2 linked regions of the Homo sapiens genome follow. The protein of the gene in region 2 interacts with the protein of the main gene of each other region in a pairwise test. Each region holds a gene or a part of one and is shown on either strand. Other genes may lie near its edges.

The links. Proteins that work in one complex are often made in the same cells at the same time.
Region 1: the proteins of SLC10A6 (region 2) and YIPF1 interact in binary tests that used the Homo sapiens proteins (3 or more experiments, as listed by UniProt).

The regions. Positions count from the first base shown.
Region 1 is NC_000001.11:53,879,798-53,883,501, forward strand, and holds part of YIPF1 (protein YIPF1), read right to left. Parts: intron 3,480-3,704; coding exon 3,316-3,479; intron 1-3,315.
Region 2 is NC_000004.12:86,835,740-86,839,476, forward strand, and holds part of SLC10A6 (sodium-dependent organic anion transporter), read right to left. Parts: intron 1-3,737. UniProt on the Homo sapiens protein: Transports sulfoconjugated steroid hormones from the extracellular compartment into the cytosol in a sodium-dependent manner without hydrolysis.

The sequences.
Region 1 (3,704 bases), on a different chromosome or scaffold from region 2:
GAATGAATTCAGCACCTTCAACTGAAATACCCAGGTTCTTGCATTGGGACTGACTAGGCAAGTAGCTCGACCCACGGAGAATGAAGAAAAGCAGGGTGGGGCGATGGCTCACCCAGGAGCAGCACGGAGACAAAGGAACACCCATCCCCAACCAAGGAAAGCATTCCCCTTGAAAACCAGCACAAGACATGGATGCCCTCTCTTATCACTCCTATTCAATAGTATTAGAAGTTCTGGCCAGGGCAATCAGGGAAGAGAAACAAATAAAGGGTATTCAAATAGGAAGAGGGTATTCAAATAGGAAGAGAGTAAGTCAAATCACCTTTGTTTGCAAGATGACATGTTTCTATATCTAAAAAACCCCATCATCTCAGCCCAAAAGCTTCTTAAGCTGGTAAGCAACTTCAGCAAAGTCTCAGGATACAAAATCAATGTGCAAAAATTGTTAGTATTCCTATACACCGACAACAGGCAAGCAGAGGGCCAAATTATGAATGAACTCTCGTTCTTTTGTATGAATGAACTGCTACAAAAAGAATAAAATACCTAGGAACAAGGGAAGTAAAGGACCTCTTCAAAGAAAACTATAAACTACTGCTCAAAGAAATAAGAGAGGACACAAACAAATGGAAAAACATTCCATGCTCATAGTTAGGAAGAATCAGTATTGTGCAAATGGCATACTGCCCAAAGTAATTTATAGATTCAATGCCACTCCCAGTAAACTACCATTGACATTCTTCACGGAATTAGAAAAAAACTATTTTAAAATTCATATGGAATCAAAAGAGAGCCCAAATAGTCAAGACAATCCTAAGCAAAAAGAACAAAGCTGGAGGCATCATGCTACCTGACTTCAAACTAAACTACAAGTCTACAGTAACCAAAACAGCATGGTACTGGTACAAGAACAGACACATAGACCAATGAAACAGAACAGAGAACTCAGAAATAAGAATGCACGTCTACAACCATCTGATCTTCGAAAAACCTGACAAAAACAAGCAATGGGGAAAGGATTCCCTATTCAATAAATAGTGCTGGGAGAACTGGCTAGCCATATGCAGAAAACTGAAACTGGACCCCTTCCTTATACCATAAGCAAAAATTAACTCAAGGTGGATTAAAGACTTAAATGTAAAACACAAAACTAAAAAAACCCTAGAAGAGAATCTAGGGAATACCAGCTGGGCGCGGTGGCTCATGCCTGTAATCCCAGCACTTTGGGAGGCCAAGATGGGTGGATCATGAGGTAAGGAGTTCGAGACCAGCCTGGCCAATATGGTGAAACCCCGTCTCTACTAAAAATACAAAAATTAGTTGGGCATGGTGGCACGTGCCTGTAGTCCCAGCTGCTTGGGAGGCTGAGGCAGGAGAATCGCTTGAACCCAGGAGGCGGAGGTTGCAATGAGCCTCCAGCCTAGGCGACAAAGCAAGACTCCATCTCAAAAAAAAAAAAAAAAAGAAAAAGAAAGAAAATCTAGGGAATACCAATCAGGACATAGGCATGGGCAAAGATTTCATGATGAAAACACCAAAAGCAATTGCAACAAAAGCAAAAATTGACAAATGGGATCTAATTAAACTAAAGAGCTTCTGCACAGCAAAAGAAACTATCTTCAGAGTGAACAGACAACCTACAGAATGAGAGAAAATTTTTGCAATCTATCCATCTAACAAAGGTCTAATATCCAGAGTCTACAAAGTACTTAAGCAAATTTACAAGGAAAAAACAACTCCATTAAAAAGTGGGCAAGGGACATGAACAGACACTTCTCAAAAGACATACATGTGGCCAAAAAACATATGAAAGAAAGCTCAATATCTTGATTTGAGAAATGCAAATCAAAACCACAATGAGACACCATATCATGCCAGTCAGAATGGTGATTATTAAAAAGTCAAGAAACAACAGATGCTAGTGAAGTTGCGGAGAAAAAGGAATGCTTTTACACTGTTGGTGGGAGTGTAAATTAGTTCAACCATTGTGGAAGACAGTGTGGCGATTCCTCAAAGACCTAGAGGCAGAAATACTATTTGACCCAGCAATCCCATTACTGGGTATATACCCAGAGAAATATAAATCATTCTATTATAAAGATACATGCACATTTATGTTCACTGCAGCACTATTCACAATAGCAAAGATACGGAATCAACCTAAATGCCCATCAATGATAGACTGGATAAAGAAAATATGGTATATATACAACCATGGAATACTACGCAGCCAGAAAAAGGAATGAGATCATGTCCTTTGCAGGGACATGGATGGAGTTGGAAGCCATTATCCTTAGCAAACTAACACAGGAACAGAAAACCAAACACCACATCTTCTCACTTATAAGTGGGAGCTGAATGGTGAGAACACATGGACACATGGGAGGGGGAGCATCAGGAAGAAGAGCTAATGGATGCTGGGCTTAATACCTAGGTGATGGGGTGATCTGTGCAGCAAACCACTGTGGCACATGTTTACCTATGTAACAAACCTGTACCTCCTGCACATGACCCCTGAAGTTAAAATAAAAGTCGAAGAAAAAACATTAAAGAAAAACATTTTCACAATTAAAGTCGACAGTGGCAGCAACTGCCTTACATGGTGGTAAACAGCCCATTCCTGGAGGTACTCAAGCAAGTGTTTTCAATCTTTCCTTTTTTTTTTTTTCTTTCTTCTGGAGACAGGGTCTCACTCTGTTGCCGAGGCTGGAGTGTAGTGGTGCAATCTCAGCTCACTGCAACCTCTACTCCCCAAGCTCAAGCAATCCTCCCACCTTAGTTTCCCGAGTAGCTGGGGCTACAGGTGTCCACCACCATACTCGGCTAATATTTTGTACTTTTTGTAGAGGTGGAGTTTCACCATGTTGCCCAGGCTGGTCTCGAACTCCTGGGCTCAAGTGATCTGCCCGCCTCAGCCTCCCAAAATGCTGGGATTATATGCGTGAGCCACCACGCCTGGCTCCAAGTGTTATCTTTCCTACATAGCAAGGACAGCATCAATATCTCAGGAGAGAGGCTAAAACAGAGGGCCATGAAGGTTCTTTCCTACTCTAATATTAGAAAATATTGAGCATGGGAGTCCCACATTCCATAAGCTAGGATCTCTGCTCACTACCCCAGTGTTCCCCTCCACAAGTGTACTTACGGAAAGTAATGGTCTGTTTGCCTGTTTCCCCCACCAAGGAAGAGGCCATGTGTCATTTACCTCTGAGCTGTCATTGCCTGACACTGTACCTGGCACACAGTAGACAGTGAATAAGCACATAAACAAGCTTTAAAAATTGTTTAAAAAATATCTCAAAGACAAGTTCAAACCTCAGTTTTGTCAGAGTCATCATTTCCCAGTAACTCATCATCTTCTTCTCTTCCTGAGCCTCTTGGGGATCCTGGCTGATGTTTTGGGGTTTCACCAGGATCCTCAATGTTTACTGTGGTGGCATCTGGGTTTGCTGTCAGAGAAGTGGCTGCATTGCCAAATTCTGAAATCAATTAGAGCACACGGGCCTCAGAAACCTTACCCACACTAGAAATGCTATACTTTGAATTTAAAGACAAGCTGTCACAACCTCAGCTTTGCTATAGACCCTACCTGATACAAAGGGCAAAAGCTTTGAAAAACAAAAAATCTCATCAGGAGATCAATCTGATATAGAAAAATGACTATGAAGACAACAGAATTTGGAGTCAGACCTAGATTTTGGTTC
Region 2 (3,737 bases):
AAAGAAAGAGAGAGAGAGAGAGAAAGAAAAGAAAAGAAAAGGAAGGGACTGAGATTTGAGATTGAAGTAGAGTGATGAGTTAGAGTACAAAGTAAGATTTCTAGGCTTCAAAATGATGGTGTGATATACAAAAAAGCTGAGTCACTTAGCATCAGTTAGAGGGGTTGTGTTAAGTAAGGTGATAGTGGGACATCCAGTCTTTGGTGAACAAACCTGGAAAGATTTCTAAAGACAATCAGTCTGTTTATCTGTGTCATTACTGGGGTTGTCTCTGGCCACCTTGGAAAGTGAAATGTGGGTTTGTGAGCCGGACGAACCAAACCAAAACCAACAGCCATGCTACATAGCTTTACCAGGAAAACAACTGAGACCATCAGAAGGAAGTTGTGGTCTTTGTTCAACAAATCCAGAATGATTTCTACTGGAAAACTGGTTTGTTTATCTCTGTTATTATTGAGGTTAATTGTTTCTAAGTCAAAAGGCTAACACATTTTAAGCGCAATGGTTCTTAAGAACTTTTAAGTACATAATGTCTGTGACAGAGGGGGAAGAGTACTTGGTTTGAAGTCCTCAAAAACTGTGTATCGTGATTACTGCTATGGTCTGAATGTGTCCTCCAAAATTCATAGGTTGGAAATCAAATCCCTAAGACAACAGTATTGAGAGGTGGAGCTTTCTGGGAGGTGTTTAGGTCACAATGAATCCACCTTCATGAATGAATTAATGCTATTTTAAGAGGACTCCACCAAGGAAGTTTGTTCCTTTTTGCCCTTCTCTCTTCCACCACGTGAGGAGCAAGAAGGACCTCACCAGACAATAGATGCCAGCACCTTCATCTTAGACTTCCCAGCCTCCAGAATGTAAGGGAATAATTTCTCTTCTCTATACATTAACCAGTCTCAGGTATCCTGTACAGCAGCACAAAATGGACTAAGACAATTACTATATTGTTATTACATTATATGAACTAAGTTACTGCTTCACACATTTGTAATTTGTTGCAGATTTTTTGGGGTTTTGTTTTGTTTTGTTTTTTGAAATGGAGTCCCACTCTGTCGCCCAGGCTGGAGTGCAGTGGCGCAATCTCGGCTCACTGCAACCTCCACCTCCTGGGTTCAAGTGATTCTCCTGCCTCAGCCTCCTGAGTAGCTGGGATTACAGATGCCCACCACCACACCCAGGTAATTTTTGTATTTTTAGTAGAGATGGGATTTCACCATGTTGGCCAGGCTGTCTCGAACTCCTAACCTCAGGTGATCCACCCGCCTCGGCCTCCTAAAGTGCATGAGCCACCACGCCCGGCCATAATATACTGTGTTTTTGTATTTTCCATATATATTTTTGGTCTAAATTTATTTAGGGAAAAGCACTTAGTTACATTAACTGATAGTTAATATTTTATATATTGTAAAGCCTCCTTTGCTCTAAACCAGGGAGAGGAAGAAGAGCCCATGGTGCATGTAGAGAGAGAGAGAGAGAGAGAGAGAGAAAGAAAGAAAGAAAGAAAGAAAGAAAGAAAGAAAGAAAGAAAGAAAGAAAGAAAGAAAAAGAAAGGAAGGAAGGAAGGAAGGAAGGAAGGAAGGAAGGAAGGAAGGAAGGAAGGAAGGCAGGCAGGCAGGCTGGGATTTGAGAAGCAAGTAAGCAAAACATCATGTTGTACACCATAAATATACATAATTTAACTTGTCAATTAAAAATAAAATTTAAAAAAGAAGTCAGTGGAGAGCTGGGAGGTTATATTTCATGAAAGCTAAGAAAAGAAAGCTCCCAAATGAAGGCTAAAAGCCAATAAAAATCAGGGAGGATGAGAACTGAAGAAATATTCAACCTTACCCCACTTTTTGGTGCCTTCCATCCCAAATCTATTCTTTCCATCTCAGTCTCACTCCCAAATCGCAAGTTAAGGCTGTATTTTGTACCTACCTGAGTGATAGAACCAGTGAAAGAATGCATTAGTAAAATTAGGGGAAAGAAAATAAATGGAAAGAAGATACCCATCAGACCAGTCAAATATTTTATCTTTCAATTTGCTGGAAAAAATTACACAATCTGTTTAAGCATGTACAAACTGTTTATAGACACTGTGCTCATTCTGTGCTCAAGGCACAAATGACTGACAGACTGAGAAGCAGACTGCCCTCCTGCTCTACAAAGGAGAGGGAGGAGGCCCTTCATACGTCAAGGTCTTCTGCATAGACAGAAGGTCCTTCAGCACTTTATTGGGTCTACAAGTCATCTGTCACTCTTCCTCCTAATATATATCACCATTGCTTCCATCCAATTACCCTGTCTATAAAATAATACGTCTATGACTACTTTAACATTTTCTGCCAGAAGAATGTTTATACTCTTGACAAAGCAGCATCTGTTTTACTTCAATGATACTAAAAAGATTCCCTCTGTGCTCTCACTCATTGCTGGTAAAAATGGTACACCACAGAGGGTGTCTGGCAATATCTAGGAAAATTAGCGATCCTGCTTCTAGGATTCTGAATCCATGGCCCTCTGGACATGGTTTTATTGACATTGGCTCATGAATTATACACATGCTGTACCCTACACAAGTACTTATGTACCTGTCCATCTGTGCCAGAGTGAGTGGCATGACAGCCAGGTCCTATTTTCCTCTCCATCTCTAGGAGACCTGGCATAGTCTCACGCTGCAGCATATTGGAAGAGCTCGTTAAATACTTACTGAATAAATGTATGAATCAAAGAATGAACCAATGTCAACACACTGGTGCTATGGAAATATTCTCTCTGTCTCCGTCATATGTCACGTATCTCCAGGTGAACATTGGTAAAAATCTTACTGAAATGACCCCTTTATACTTAGTTCAAATGGTAAACAGCCCCATAGCAATCCAGAAAAAGAGACTTTCTATAAAATTATGCTCTCCCAGCAGGGCATGGTGGCTCATGCCTGTAATCCCAGCACTTTGGGAGGCCAAGGCGTGCAGATTACCTGAGGTCAGGAGTTCGAGACCAGCTTGGCCAACATGGTGAAACCCCATCTCTAAAAAAAATACAAAAATTAGCCGGGCATGGTGGCACACGCCTGTAATCCCAGCTACTCGGGAGGCTGAGGCAGGAGAATTGCTTGAGCCTGGGAGATGGAGGTTGCAGTGAGCCGAGATCATGCCATTGCACTCCAGCCTGGGTGACAGTGTCTCAAAAAAAAAAAAAAAAAAAAAAAATTATGCTCTTCCCAGACAAAAGCAAGTAAAATTTTAAGAAGCAAATATTTAGCTGATTGGTGCTCCTTTCAGAAATCCAAACTTAGATAACTTGCAAGTATTTGTGTACATCCTTCTACTCTTTTATTTTTCTTTTAAGCAGTCCATTTATTTCATGATTGTTTGTTAAATCAATAGGATTTTTTTCTTTCATTATTTTTTCTTTTTAAAGGAATCAGACCAGGTGCAGTGCCTCATGCCTGTAATTCCAGCAATTTGGGAGGCTGAATTGGGAGGATTGCTTAAGACCAGGAGTTTAACAACAGCCTGAGCAACATAGAGAGACCCTGGTCTCTACAAAAAAAAAAAAAAAAAAAGTACAAAAATTAGCTGAATGTGGTGGTACACACCTGTAGTCCCAGCTACTCGGGAGGCTGAGGCAGGAGGATGGCTTGAGCTCAGGAGTTTGAGGCTGCAGTGAGCTATGCTCACACCACAACACTCCAGCTTTGGGGACAGAAGGAGGCCCTGTCTCTAAAAATAAAAAAAGGAACCTTATAA